2 linked regions of the Homo sapiens genome follow. Each later gene encodes a partner of the first gene's protein in a complex. Each region holds a gene or a part of one and is shown on either strand. Other genes may lie near its edges.

What was found.
Region 2: the proteins of TCAIM (region 1) and OGDH are in contact, whole or in part, in a cryo-EM structure (PDB 8I0K), measured with the Homo sapiens proteins. Residues at the interface, in NP_001269842.1 of Homo sapiens: Glu214, Gln234, Arg235, Ser236, Trp237, Gly238, His241, Ser244, His247, Ser248, Arg251, Gln255, Asp272, Arg273, Thr286, Met287, Asp288, Val289, His290, His291, Glu331, Leu332, Gln333, Pro334, Val335, Arg375, Tyr376, Glu441, Ser443, His473; in NP_001425937.1 of Homo sapiens: Gly301, Tyr304, Arg323, Tyr354, Arg356, Ile358, Arg364, Asn365, Lys387, Glu391, Tyr394, Cys395, Gly396, Thr398, Glu399, Lys401, Lys402, Lys561, Met602, Pro605, Glu667, Gly668, Ile669, Asn709, Met734, Ala735, Ser736, Pro737, Asn738, Gln772.

Annotation. Positions count from the first base shown.
Region 1 is NC_000003.12:44,334,133-44,341,789, reverse strand, and holds the start of TCAIM (T-cell activation inhibitor, mitochondrial), read right to left. Parts: upstream 3,025-7,657; 5' UTR 2,956-3,024; intron 1-2,955. UniProt on the Homo sapiens protein: May regulate T-cell apoptosis.
Region 2 is NC_000007.14:44,693,611-44,700,640, reverse strand, and holds part of OGDH (2-oxoglutarate dehydrogenase complex component E1 isoform 1 precursor), read right to left. Parts: intron 6,817-7,030; coding exon 6,637-6,816; intron 6,218-6,636; coding exon 6,065-6,217; intron 4,617-6,064; coding exon 4,514-4,616; intron 4,213-4,513; coding exon 4,084-4,212; intron 3,728-4,083; coding exon 3,577-3,727; intron 3,272-3,576; coding exon 3,144-3,271; intron 3,038-3,143; coding exon 2,859-3,037; intron 2,450-2,858; coding exon 2,378-2,449; intron 501-2,377; coding exon 372-500; intron 1-371. UniProt on the Homo sapiens protein: 2-oxoglutarate dehydrogenase (E1o) component of the 2-oxoglutarate dehydrogenase complex (OGDHC). Participates in the first step, rate limiting for the overall conversion of 2-oxoglutarate to succinyl-CoA and CO(2) catalyzed by the whole OGDHC.

The DNA of each region.
Region 1 (7,657 bases):
AAGCTTAAGTAGAATATGCATAAGGGATTTAGCCACATTTAGTAAATAAAAAATTCATTACAGTTGCAACTATTATTATGTCAGAGTGTATTAAAAAATGGCATAATTTTTTTCCATCTAATGTCAGATAACATATTGCTCAAACATGCAGTTCAATACAACATTTTATTCAAAAACAAATTTTGAAAAACTTTGTTGAAAAACTCAGAATTATCACAATAAGGAGTCAATGTCTGAAGGTCTTAAACACAAGGTAGTAGGCAATTTTGCCAAGGCTACATACAATTCAAAAAGTACAGATGAATAATTTCACAAATTTTTCTCTAGAAAAATACTTTTAATTCATCAGAATTAAAAAATAGCTAGTTGTTTACTTTTACCATTTGAAGACAAAGGTGGCACTTGCTAACCAATAAAAACACAAGTTTTGATGGAAGTAGCATTTCTCTCTTCAAAATAAAAACCTAAAGTGAATATAATAAAGTTATATTGTGCTGTGGGAATTGTCTTTTTATGAATTAATACTGACTTTTTAAAGACAGTGTTCTGGGTCATGGAGAAACAATGAGAGAGCAATAGGGGAGAAATGAGAGGGAATGTGACTTTTCCTTTTTCCAATAATTCTCCTCTCTCCCACAATGGCAGCCAATTCATATTTCTAGAGGAAAATGCCTATATATATAAAAATATATTCAGTTAATAATTCTGCTATCCATTCAACAAAATTATTGCTCTAAGATGATCACTTCCTATACAAATCATTGGAAAAAATTAAAAATATATTTTCTCGTTCTGTTTAAGAATAAGAATGAAAAACCGAGTACTATGAGTCTTTTGAGTATTTCCTGTAAGCTCTTCAAGAATGGGCTCTGACGACTAAGTGACAGATGAGGATCCAGTTTTGGAAAAGAAGAAAGGGACAGGGTAGGAAGGAGAGAAAGAAATAACTCTTAGGGCAGTGGTTTTCAAAGCAGCAACAGCATCCGTGAGAAATGCAAATTATCAGGTCCCATCCGAGTCCTGCAGAATCAGAATCTGGGTGGGATGGAGGAATCTGTTTTAACACACTGTCAGGGATTCTGATGCACACTCAGGTTTGAGAACCACTGTATTAGGGAATCCTGATTCTATCACCAAAGAGGATTCTGGGGCATCTGTTAATGTTTAAGCTTTAATTCTTTAAAAATAATTATTTAATACAAACTTGGATCTTTAGCTACCCAATTTATGCTAAAAATCAAAGGAGGATTTCAAGTTTTTGCTTGAATTAGTTCTTTGTTTCCTGTATGGTTTATGTACTTTTCAGATTAAAAAAACCAAAATTCTAAGTAGAGACAATGTCCAGCAGGTTGGCAGGCATGGCTGCCTGCCGCTTCACAACGCCCAGATCTTGGGTTAGTCTTCAACCTTGTAAGAACAGAACCCAATTTTATCACTTCAAGACAGAAATACGTGGGCCTTGGGGAAGCTAAATTAGAAGGCCTGATAACTGGAATGTCAATCTGTAAATTTACTTTGAGATTATAACTGCTAAGACAACTAGAAGATTCAGATCTAATGTTCTTCCTCTTTCAGGACTAGCTACACAGAAAATCAAATTACTATCAGCTGACTGAAGACACATTGCTTCAGAGTAGAGTTGGGTGCTCTCATTCAGACACTAGCTCCAAAAGTCTGGGACATCCACATCAACCGCAGGCTTCTCGTCTTCAGATAAATTCTTACATAGGTGGTTCCTGTCCATACTGCACTTAGCCCACTATACTTCCACTTGGAAAATGCTATAAAATAACTGAAGAGGTTGCACTGTCTTATCACACTTGGGAGGCATACCGAGTCTTTAACTCACCCATTCATCACCACTTATGGGCCAGGTCCTGCGTAAAGCATTGGGACTAGAAAATTATTAAGACAATTCTAATACTCAAAAGACTTTTAGAGGGAGGGGGGAGTGTAAAAACAGACACAAGCAGATAAGTATAAAACAACGCAGTAAATGCAATAATACAAACATGCACAGAATATGAGAAACTCCCAGACGCAACACTTGGAATGGGGCGGGGAGAGCTCAGGAAGGTCTTCTCTAAGGAAATGGTGCCTTTCCTGGAAGAGGGCAGAGGACCGGGAAGGATAAAATTTATTTACAAACCATTGTAAATGACTACTTTAATCTACTTAACAGTGATATTAGTTTCTGTTTCATAAAGTGAAAATTTCTAATTTTACCTAAAATCTGTTCTAAGTGAGGCATTAAATCTGTGCAGTTTCAAACCAAATTTGGTGGAAAGATACCTAAATCAGTGAAAAATCCAAATTATGGAAGAGTACACGAAAAACGGTTTTGTTTTGCTTACTTTCAACTAACACCGAGTGTGTGCCAAATAGAGCTCTCAGGATTGAGCTTTGACCATTTGGCACAACTTTTATTTGAAAGTAATTTATTTTAACAAAATTAATATCATGCCACTCTCATTTGAACTGTGACTTCCCTTAGTGACTATCTTGTACGGTTTCTGAAAGCAGTTTGTTATATCAAGGAGGGACAAAAGCGGTAATTTTCATGGCTTTTCAGTTGAATATGAACTTCTTAGAGTAGGGGAAAAAGGCAAAGAAAAAGAGCAAAAGCAGGAAATGCTATTAGATACATTAGCCTAGATTCTGTAGCTTCCTTTTCTAAATCTCGCTATATGAGATTTAGTACGTAACAATTTCCCGTAAATCAAAGACCTCGGAAAAATATAAGTCGGAAACAATAAAACCTAAATCGTCTTTGCGTTCTCATTTCACAGCGAGTTAAAATGTAGATGCGATGCGGATACTGCGTCCCCTGGCACTGCCTCAATTCAAAAGTTAGCACTTTGCGCTAAGGTGGCTCTGAGCACTCCCCTCCGACCCCGCTTCCCCCCTAGAGGAGCATGAATGCACCACCGGAGCCCCTCCCCTCTTGCTCCTTACAGTTCTGGCAAGGGTCCGACGCGAGGGCTTTGTCCGACTAGTTCCACCTCCCACCCAGTACACCAGAAGGGAGGACAGTCGCTCCGCCCGCAGGGCTGTTCGGACGCGCATGCGCACTGGGGCGTCAGCTGGCCAACCAGCGCGCGACGCACGGCCAGGCGCTCCCACCTGCCCTCGCCCCGGTGGGCGACAGGCTTTGACGGGCTCCTAGCCGCAGTGCCCTCTGAGCCCCCAACCCTGAATTCTCAGCTGGGCCCTCCCGGCTCCACCTGCCCCCAACACCCTCCCCGCTCCGGCGGCGGCAGGGCGCTCGAGGCAAGCCCGGGCAGGGGGACGAGCTGCAGGTGACGCCCTGGTTGGCTGGAGCGTGCCAGGCCTTCCCCCTACGGCGCCTGCGCACAGCCAGGGCGTGGATTCAACCTTCCGCGGTGCCCTGCCTCTAGCTGACGTCAGCACCCTGGTAACTGCTGCACCTTCGCCGCGCGCTTTGAGCCCCCGCCCCTCCGCCTTCTTACCGGCCGCCCTGAGGGGTCTCGGCGCGCTCGGCTGAGAGCTTTAGGAGGCGCGAGCGAGCACTCCGACTAGGCCGGAGGGACTCGGAAAATGATGGTCCGGCAGGTGGTGGGTCCTGACCCAAGGGCCTGCAAGGAACGGAGAAGGGCAACCGAGCACGCGCTGGATCTTGGGGAAGAAGGGGAAAGGGACTGCTGGAGGAGGCGCGCATGCGCCGTGCGGTCCTTCGCCCCGGGCGCCCTGGCAGGGGGCGAGGCTCTGCGGAACTCCCGGAGCTGGCGCCAGGGAACAAGTCTCAGTGGAGAGCCTCGAATTTTAAAAGTCTCATTTAAGTATTTCTTTTGGTTTTCCTTGTATAAATATAGCTAACTTTTAAACATTTCTTTTCCGGCTTGTGTTGTTTGCTTTGGACCCTTCAGCACCTATTTTTAAACGTTAAGCATTCCCCAGTCAGCATGAAAGTTTTACTGTTAGTTTTATTTTGTTCCTATAATTTTGATTCCCCCCAGAAACTGCCACAGATGAAATCAAGCCAATAGAATTGAAAGCAAAGATCACCTGGTGGCCATGAAGCCGACCATCCTTAGGCAGAAACTCCTTACCTGAGGAATTTAGAGGTAACTAGACTTCCCTGTTACCTAAAGCCAGCATCTGGTACCAGACTTCTTCCCTCCAAATTTAAAAGTAACTAGAATTTCTATGCATCTCCGTAATGCACGCATGTCAAAACTCATTGTGCACCCCTTGCCATCTGCTCCATGCCCCAATCAACCCCTGTCCCCTACCATCCAGATACTTTATTACCCTCACATACTTGCACAGGAGTTACATATGCCACTAGTACAAAGTCCTCAGAAAATCCCCCAAGTGTTATGCCTCTCCACAAGGTGGCAAACGGAGATTTGGGAACAATTTGAGTTCATGTCCCTTTTCCATTGTCTGAACTTTGGCAAATTCAATCCAAGTTGGGTTCATTTAGCCAGGATCCCTCTAAGTTCATTCAAGAATTTCGGGCTTTATTGCCTTTGATTTAACCTGGCAAGACACATTTGTGGTATTAACTATTTGCTGTTCCCACGAAGAAAAAATCACGGTCTTTAGCTCGAGTTTGGGCAGACGAAACTCATGTTGGCAATCCTAATAATAGAGCCAGGGCAGAAGCTGTCCCCAACACAGAACCCAATTGGCAATACCACGCTGCCAATGCCAGCCCAAACAGAGACAGGGGAAGAGAAGATTATAACATGTTTGTTGGAAGGAATGAAATAAAACCTGTTAATTTTTCTAAATTATGAGAGATCACTCAGGACCAAGGACCCTTCCCTTTTCCAAGCTAGACTAATGGAGGCCATGCATAAATATACAGATTTAGATCCTGAAAGCCCTGAGGGCCAATCCCTTCTGGCCATACATTTTATAAGTCAGGCTTCCCCAGACATCAGACAAAAACTCCAAAAATTAGAGCAAGGCCCACAAACTCCCTTTTGTACTTTATTAAAAGCAGCCTTTAAGGACACTGAAGTTGAGAATGTCCCAAACCTCCAGGTTGCAAGCCATCCCTGGGACCCTGTCCTCACTGCAAATTGGAAGAATGAGTGTCCCTCCCTCATGAAGGGGGGGCCACCTCTTCCTTCTAGGCTATGACAGCCACAGTCTCACCAACCTACCTGACAAGGGGATCCTGCAGAACGAGGGTGAGGGTGAGGGCGAGAGCAAGGGCAAACACCTCTAATTCTATTCCTGGATTATGATCAAGCCTCTGAAATGTCAGTCATCCATCCTCTAGATGGGGCCTTGAAGCCATCCACGGCCCTGTCTTTTCCATCTCTGTGGATGATCCCAGGGCAAATCTGATTGTGGCTGAACAACAGATAATGTTACTCATAGATACACGGGACAGTTATTCAGCTTTATAAACATTTACTATGGCCCAATGTGCCAGTCCTCCATTTTCCTCATGGATATTGATGGAAAACCCCAATGAGGCTGTTTCACACAGCCATTCCCTTGTAAAATGAAAGGCTATTCCTTTACTCCTTTTTAGCCCTGTTCTATTAGGTTGTGATTTACAAAATTACAAGCTAATTTACAGCTAAGGCCCCACCTTCTAGCTGTATTAACACTTCACCAAAAGAGCCCCTGCAGCTTCTCCCAGATAGCAATCTACTTCAGTATGTGGATGACTTACTAATCTGTAGTCCTAACCAGGCTGTTCCAGACCAAAATACAGTATTAGTATTCAACAAACTTGCTAATTGTGGGTACAAAGTATCTCCTTCTAAAGCACAAATATCCACACAAAGGGTTCAATTTTGGGGTCTTATTTTAATTCCCAGTGAAAAAGCCTTTGTAGTGCTTGTACAGATCTTAAACGTGACAATTGTGGTAACTAAACAACAGCTTCAGTCATTTTTGGGTAAGGCTGGGTTTTGCAGAATATGGATTCCTTCCTTTGAGTTAATAGCAAAACCTTTATATGAAGCCCTCAAGGGAACTCAGGAACAGTCTCTATACTGGACTAATGAGATGAAGCATGCTCTAAACACTTTAAAATAGGCTTTAATCTCAGCCCTGACCTCAGCCCTACCAGATCTGACTAAGCCTTTTTCTATGTACATGAACAAAAGGGAATAGCTTTGGGAGTCTTAGCCCAAGATTGAGGGGCCCTCTAAGTGCCCTATAGCATTTTTTTTTCTTTGAGATGGAGTCTCACTCTATTGTTCAGGCTGGAGTGCAATGGCATGACCTTGGATCACTGCAACCTCTGCTTCCCAAGCTCAAGTGATTCTCCTGCCTCAGCCTCCCAAGTATCTGGGATTATAGGTGTGCACCACCGCGCCCAGCTAATTTTTGCATTTTTAGTAGAGTCAGGGTTTCACCATGTTGGCCAGGCTGGTCTCAAACTCCTGACCTCGTGATCTGACTGCCTCAGCCTCCCAAAGTGCTGGCATTACAGGTGTGAGCCACTGTGCCTGGCCCCTATAGCATATTTAAAAAAAAACTTTAGACCTAGTATGCCAGGGATGGCTTAAGAGCCTTAGCAGCGGTGGCCCTTAGTGCAAGAAGCCTCAAAAATGTATTACCTGCCCCTCCTGAACTCTTATGGTTTTGTGGCACTGCTATTAATTATTTAAATCCTTTTCAAGCTTTGGCCCTATCCCACCTTGATAATTCTCTTCGTTATGATGATTGTACCCTGGGTACAATAGCTCCTGCCCAAATCACTGTCTTAAACATAACTTCCAATCTAGAATCCCATTCTAGATGAAAAAGGGCCCTAGGACTTATTGTTGGAGTTGTGGGAATCATCACAACTCTCACCCCTTGGGGAGGTTGTACTTATCATGAAATCACACTATGTGAACATGCTGCCTCCCTCACAATCGCAAAAACTAGCACAAGTCTATCAGCACTAGAAAAGTCTGTAGCCTCACTAGCAGGAATGGTTGTTGATATCAGAAGGGCTCCAGATTACCTCCTAGCTGAATAAGGAGGAGTCTGTGCTGTCATTAACAAAATGTGTTGCACCTACATTAATGTGTCTGGAGAAGTGGAAGCTGATGTCCAAGAAATTTTCAAACAAACCAAATGGCTACACACACCTTCTCAAAGTAACCCAAAGTGGGCCAAAATCCTTACTAATTGGTTCCCAAAAATCACCTGGTTTCTCCCATTCCTTGGACCTTTATTCCTCATTATTCTTCCTCTAATATTTGGTCCCTGCCTCTTTAATGCTCTCATTAAGTTTCTATCTTCCAGATTACAATGATTCCACCTACAGATGATTATGTAATCCCAATACCAGCCTGCAACAGCAACTTCCACATATATGGGGCCTCTTGATGGAATCCGGTGTCTCCTGTCCCCAGTAAGTTTTTCATAACCCTTCATGACACAGAGCAAGAAAGGGAAAAATGTGACTTATCCCCTCAATGCTCCCTTTCAGCAAGAAGTAGCCAGACAGACCTGACACCCCTCTTCACTGTGCCGTTTCCCCTTTCTTGAAACCATAATAGGCAGAAGGTACAGAGGAGCATGGGGGATTCGAAAGGGTCAAATATTTGACCAAGATATCTGTCAGGGGGAAAATGAGGAGAGCAAAGATCACCTGGTGGCCATCAAGCAGACTATCTGCAGGCAAAACTCCTTACCTGAGGAATTTAGAAGTGATTAGACTTCCCCATTATAA
Region 2 (7,030 bases), on another chromosome or scaffold:
GGACCCTGCACTCCCTTGGCCTCTGCCAGGGCTCACCTCTCTTCCAGAGCTCAGCACACCCCCTATGACCACCTGTTCAAACATCCGTCCTCCCCACCGGGCTGGGGCCTGCAGCCTATGTGATTGCTCCGCATGTGGTGCTCAGCAGTATGCAGGGGCCCAGTCGGGGAAGAGGACACACAGAACACGCAGTTCCCTCATGGCAGCAGTGAGGAGGAAGGGCGAGGCTCCCTGACACCATGTCCTGTCCACACTACCCCTGCAGGTGCCCACCTAGCTAACCCCAAGCAAGAGGCTCTCTGAGGAGCCCTTCCCTGCACCAACAGGGCAGGGCCAGGCCTCGTTTGAGCAAGGGAGGCCCTGCCACTGACCGGCTTCCGGAATGGCAGCAGGATCTGGCGTCGTAGCACGTGGAAGAAGTTGCCAGGAGTGGAGCAGTTGACAACAACCCAATTGCAGTCATATAGCTGATTGATGTCGAAGTTGGCTTCTTTAAGGTCCTGCAGCAGGGAAGGAAATGGCCAGAGGCCAGGACACAGCACTGAGTCTTCTGGGGCATGTGGGGGCCCTCAGGTGATCTAGTTTGGATATTTGTCCCTGCCCAAATCTCATGTTGAATTGTAATCTCCCACTGCTGGAGGTGGGGCCTGGTGGGAGGTGTTAGGATTAGAGCTTGGGCCATCCCCTTGGTGATGAGTGAGCTCTCACTCTGAGTTCACACGAGATCTGGTTGTTGAAAGTGTGTGGCCCCTCTCCCCCACTCTCTTACTCCTGCTCTGGCCATGTGACATGCCTGCTCTCCCACTTCATCTTCTGTCATGATTGTAAGCTTCCTGAGGCCTCCCCAGAAGCTGAGCAGATGCCAGCATCATGCTTCCTGTACAGCCTACAGAACTGTGAGCCAATTAAACTTTTCTTTATAAATTACCCAGTCTCAGGTTTTTCTTTATAGCAACACAAGAATGGCCTAACACACTGACTCCCCAGGAGACATAAGCTGACACTAACAAGTGAGTCCAGCAAGCTCCTTCGGCCAGCCTCATACCCTGGAGGAGAGCCTCAGTCCCACTCAATCCATACTATTTCTCTGAAAGCTATTGCCCAGCATGAAACAAATACCACTTTAAGAGACACAAGTTCTACCTAAAACCAATTTTCCTTAGACACTGACACCTAATCATTTTCTTTGAGTTTTTTTTTTTTTTTTTTTTTTTTGAGACAGGAGTCTCCCTCTGTCGCCTAGGCTGGAGTGCAGTGGCGCAATCTTGGCTCACTGCAACCTCCACCTCCCGGGTTCAAGCGATTCTCTGCCTCAGCCTCCTGAGTAGTTGGGACTACAGGTGCCCGCCACCACGCCTGAATAATTTTTGTATTTTTAGTAGAGACGGGGTTTCACTATATTGGCCAGGGTGGTCTCAAACTCCTGGCCTCGTGATCCACCTGCCTGGGCCTCCAAAGTGTTGAGCTTACAGGCGTGAGCCACTGCGCCTGGCCAGTTCTTTTTTTGTGAGACGGAGCTGCCCAGGCTGGAGTGCAGCGGCACAATCTTGGCTCACTGCAACCTCTGCTTCCCGGGTTTAAGCAATTCTCCTGCCTCAGCCTCAGACTAGCTGGGATTACAGGTGGGCGCCACCATGCCCAGCTAGTTTTTGTATTTTTAGTAAAGACAGGGTTTCACCATATTGGCCAGGCTGGTCTCAAACTCCTGACCTCATGATCCGCCTGCCTGGGCCTCCCAAAGTGCTGGGATTTCAGGCTTGAGCCACCACACCCAGCACAGTTCTTTTTTTTTTTTTTTTTAAGACAGGGTATTGCTCTGTCACCCAGGTTGGAGTGCAGTGGCACGATCTTGGCTCACTGCAGCCTTGACCTCCCAAGCTCAAGCAATCCTCCCACCTCAGCCTCCCAAGTAGCTGGGACTGCAGGCGTGCACCATCACGCCCAGCTACTTTTTAAAATTTTTGTAGAGACGGGGTCTCACCATGTTGCCCAGGCTGGTTCTTTGAGTTCTTAAAGTTTCACTGGAATCGCCCCAAAGTTCTCTCCTCCTCAGGGCTTCCAGACCTGAATCAGGGTCTGGAAGCATCCCGCAGGAGCCCTTGCTGAGGAGCTCACATGGCGTTTCTGTGCTTGCAGCAACAGCAGGAAGCCAATGGAGGCAGTCCCTGCACCTTCCTCTGTGCTCTGAGGAAGTCTCTCATCCCAGGGCGCCCAGAAGCATGGGGCCACACCTGTCCACTCACGTGAGCTCCCCAGGATGGAGAAAGGGACAGAGGCACGGTCTGCCACTTCAGGATGACCAGATAGATTGCTCTTCCCCAGGTTTCCCACCAGACACCCCGAGAATGGCTGGGCTGACAGGGCCTGTATTACTCACTGGCAGGACATCTGGGTCATCGTTGCACATCTGCAAGAACCGCTCTGGGCGGGCGGAGGAATGTTCTGGACCCTGGAACCACACACGCAAGTTACAGTTTAAGAGCTCTTGCGTACTGACATTTGCCGCATCTGCTGTTCCTCCTCAACCAACTAGCTCATTTCTGGTTATCTTTTTTCTTGATGGCAGGGTTCAGTTCCTTCCCCCTCCCACCAGCAAAGCACTTGGCTCATCATTTCCACACTTGGACGCCTGTGCATCTAGGGAGTCTGCACCAGCAGGGACGGGGCATGCTAGCCACATCCAGATGGGCTACTCTGGCTTTCTGAAGTGACATCCCATCTGAGATGGATGGGAAGCACCAGCAGAGTCCTTAGGAGGCTGGTGTGAGCCACTGGCTCTCGTGCCAGTCTTTGGGGTCAGGGTCCTACACAGGCCCTTCCCAAGTCCTAGGTCTGGCAGGGAAGGGCCAGAGGCTCACCATGCCCTCCATGCCATGGGGCAGCAGCAACACGATGCCATTCTGCCGCACCCACTTGGCTTGTCCCGGGCAGATGAACTGGTCGATGATACACTGGGCCGTGTTGTGGAAGTCACCAAATTGGGCTTCCCAGAGGACCAGGGCATTAGGACTGGCCATGGCGAAGCCCAGCTCAAAGCCTACAAGGGACAAAGGAAGGAGAAAACCATGTCCAGGACACCAGCCAGTAGGCCCAGCGGGGGTGGGTGGGTGACAGGCCCTGGTGGTGTGGCTCCAGGCACTCACCCAGCACGCCGTACTCAGACAGTGAGCTGTTGCACACAGTATAGGGGGCCTGATTGGGCCAGAGATGGTTCATGGGGATGCAGGTTCTCTTGTCCACATTCTGGTCATGGAGCACATGGTGGCGGTGGCTGAGACAGGACAACAGAGGTAATAATTAGGAGCTCTGACTTGACAAGCAAATACGCTGGGGACCCGCACGAAGCACCAGCAGATGCCATGCTCTGTGACCTGGACTTCTGGCCAGGCAGCTGCAGGGTCGGCCCCACCCAGGTCTTAACAGAAGCACCCATAGCAAATGAGGGACAGAGGTTTTCAGCCTGAGAGCAATGTGACTCTTCCGGTTTCTAACCGTCTTCCGGAAAAGAAACACCAGAACCCCTCCCTTTCCATCTTCTACTCTTTGGAGGGCAAACAAAACTGCCCAGAACGTTACCTGAATGTGCCCCGCTCCACGTCCTGGCCGCTCAGCCGAATGTGGATGCCCTCCTTCAGGAGCGAGCCAAACGCCATGTACTCCGCTAGAGCCCAGTCCACAGTCCGGTTCTTCACCATTTCCCCACGAGTCTTCAAGATCCGGCTCAGCCCTGCAGAGACACAGCTCTCACCAGCTGCTGCAGGCCCTGCCTGCACATGCCTGCCTTGCTTCTCAGCGTGCCCATGGCAAGAGCGGAGCCTTCTTTACTCGTAGTTTCTGGGTTCCTGACTTGCTGGAAAAGCTGTGACCTCAGTCTCTCCTTTACCACTGAGGAAGTGTAGGATCGTGCTAAGGGCAGGGAGTGGGAGAGGTGGCTCCATCCAACCACCCCAGAGGCCTTGAGCAGGGCAGGAAGGGAGTCTCTGTAGGACACATGATGGGTGGGGGCCAAGGTCACAGTCCTAGACAGTCGTCGCCCCTGGCCTGGGCCCCAACATTTCCACAGGTCAGCACAGAGCGTGTTACCTCCATGAATAGTAAAGTTTTCCACAGGCACAGAACTAGCCACATTCCCGATGTGTGTCAGAATATCCTCCGTCAGACCCGTGGAGGGGCAGGACATGCTCCTGGGCTGCCCGTCCAGGGTGAAGAAGCCTAGGAGAAGAAGAACAACTGAGGCATGACATCTGCTCTACTTTTCCAGGGACCACAAAATGGCAGACACGTGATTTTGGGGAGAAGCAGGGTGAGAGACAATGTAGCTCACACTGTGTTCCCCAGAAAACATTAATGCAGGGGTCTGGGTCCAGGGTCTGCAGGGGGCTTTGCTGAAATGGTGCATACAACTGTGCATTGTGGGTACAAAGTGGAAAGCATGAATTTTTTCTGGGAAGAGGATGCCTCGTTACATCAGATCCTCAAAGGAGCTTATTTGTGGCACTGTTTCTTCACTCACCAGGCCAGGGAGAGTCCAGCCAGTGCTTAATGTGCAAGATCTTCTCATCTTTAGATCTGGCAAAAGCTTCCTCACAGATCTTATCATACTTGGAAATTTCCTCCTGGAGGGTTGGGCACAACACAGCGTGACTGGCACAGGGCATGACTACTGCACACGCCCACCTGTACCCCCACACTTTCTGACAGCCACCACGCAAGCCCAACCATACCCCTGGCACAACTCCCGTGCATGCCCACCCATAGTCCCACACTTCGTGGATGCAAAACATCTCAGCCTCTGGGCCTGCTCCTTCTCAATAGGCATAACACCTTTCTAAGATTTTATTCTTTTCACTCCCAAAAGTTTCTTCCTCACATTTGCTGGGTAGAGATTCTGCTCGGAGTTTGAACCCCTAACCCTTCACCACTTTTTTTTTTTTTTTTTGAGACGGAGTCATGCTCTGTCACCAGGCTGGAGTGCAATGGCGCGATCTTGCCTCACTGCAACTTCCGCCTCCCGGGTTCAAGCGATTCTCCTGCCTCAGCCACCTGAGTAGCTGGGACTACAAGTGCGTGCCACCACGCCCAGCAAATTTTTGTATTTTTAGTAGACGGGGTTTCACCATGTTGGCCAGGATGGTCTCGATCTCTTGACCTCATGATCCACCTGCCTCAGTCTCCCAAAGTGCTGCAATTACAGGCATGAGCCACCACGCCCAGCCCACCACATTTTTTCTTAAGAACTGGTCCAGGCCAGGCGCAGTGGCTCATGCCTATAATCCCAGCACTTTGGGAGGCCAAGACAGGCAGATCACTTGAGGTCAGGAGTTCAAGACCAGCCTGGCCAACACGGGGAAACCCTGTTTCTACTAAAAATACAAAAATTAGCTAGGCGTGGTGGCTCGCACCTGTAATCCCAGGTACTTGGGACGCTGAGACATGAAAACTGCTTGAAGTAAGGAGGTGGAGGTTGCAGTGAGCTAAGATCATGCCACGGCACTCCAGCCTGGGTGACAGAGCTAGACTCCGTCTCAAAAAACAAAACAAAACAAAAAAAAAACTGGTTCACAAAGCTCTGTCTCCAGCATAGGCTACAGGCTATCAGGTTGTTCTGATCTGGGATCTGTCCTGTTCCCATGCTCAGATATAGCTCCTCACACCCACCCTCTCCCTCTCTAGGGCAGCTGCTTGGCCTTCCCACTCACAACCAACCAGCACTTACTATCCAGATTACAACAGGCCCCTTACCAAGCTGGATCCACCACCCACCTCTCAACCATGCACAATTTGTGAAATCTGAGAAAACCTACTGGGCTGCTACTACCTCAACCTGAAAACATCCCCTTCCCTTCCCCAAAACACTGTTTAAGGCCCACTTCCTTTATAAAGCATCTCAGTGGCCCAGATTCTCCAAAAAGTTATGCATTGAAATGCTGTAGTTGTAAATATTTCACATCCTCTCACGTGTATCCTCATAACTGGCAAAAGTGAGAACTGGCCCTGTGGCCCACCTTTTCTAGTCATCGCCAGCCCTGGAAAGGCGCACTGGGATAGAGCCGCAGGGACGTACCTCATACTCAGGCTGGTTGACCACACCCTGCGACACCAGCAGCTCAGCGTACTTCTGTAACACAGGCTTCTGCTTGCGGATCTGCTTGTACATGAGCGGCTGCGTGAACATGGGCTCATCCATCTCGTTGTGGCCGTTGCGCCGGTAACACACCTGCTCAGAGCAGTGAGAGGATGTCAGAGACAAGGGCTGGCCCCTTGGGAAGAAGTGCTGTTCAGGCACCTGCCCCATCTCTCCTAGGTGATGGCCACGTTCTTCATTCCTCATGCCTGCCCTGGAGTTTACCTTCTCTAGAATTAGGATTCTGTGTATCTCTCCTTCACACAGTAGAGCTGCTCTGTCAATGAGGAGTGGCCCTCCTCACCACCACAGCTCCTGCCTGGGAAGCATTCCTTGGTGCTTACAGGCCTGAACTATTTGGAGCTCAAAGGAACCAGCATGAGGCCTGGCAGTAGAGAGCCCTGAGGTGACTCATCTAGACAAGCTCCTCTCCTTGGGACACAGGGGTGCCGAGGGCAAGAGGGGTGGGTCAGATGCTCTGCCCAGGACGTGCTGTCCCCAGAGTCACTCACCAAATCGACAACCACGTCCTTGTGGAAGGTGCTCCTCCACTCGGCCGCCACTTTGCACACGTACATGACAGCCTCGGGGTCATCTGAGTTCACGTGGAAAATGGGGGCATTCACCACTCGGGCCACGTCAGTGGGGTAGGGGGAGGAGCGGGCCATCCGAGGGTCGGTGGTGAAGCCGATCTGCAAGGAACATGTAGCCTAGCAAGAGGGCACCTGGCACAGCCGGCACAGGGACCAGAGGGCGGGGCTGAGGCCGGGCATGGCATGCACTTGCCATCTGGCTACTCTGAGTACGTACCCCAAAATGGCTGTTTACACTTTTTCTTTTCCTTTGTTTTTTCCTATTCTGATAACAAAATCCATATATATTTAACATAGAGAATTTAAAAGACAT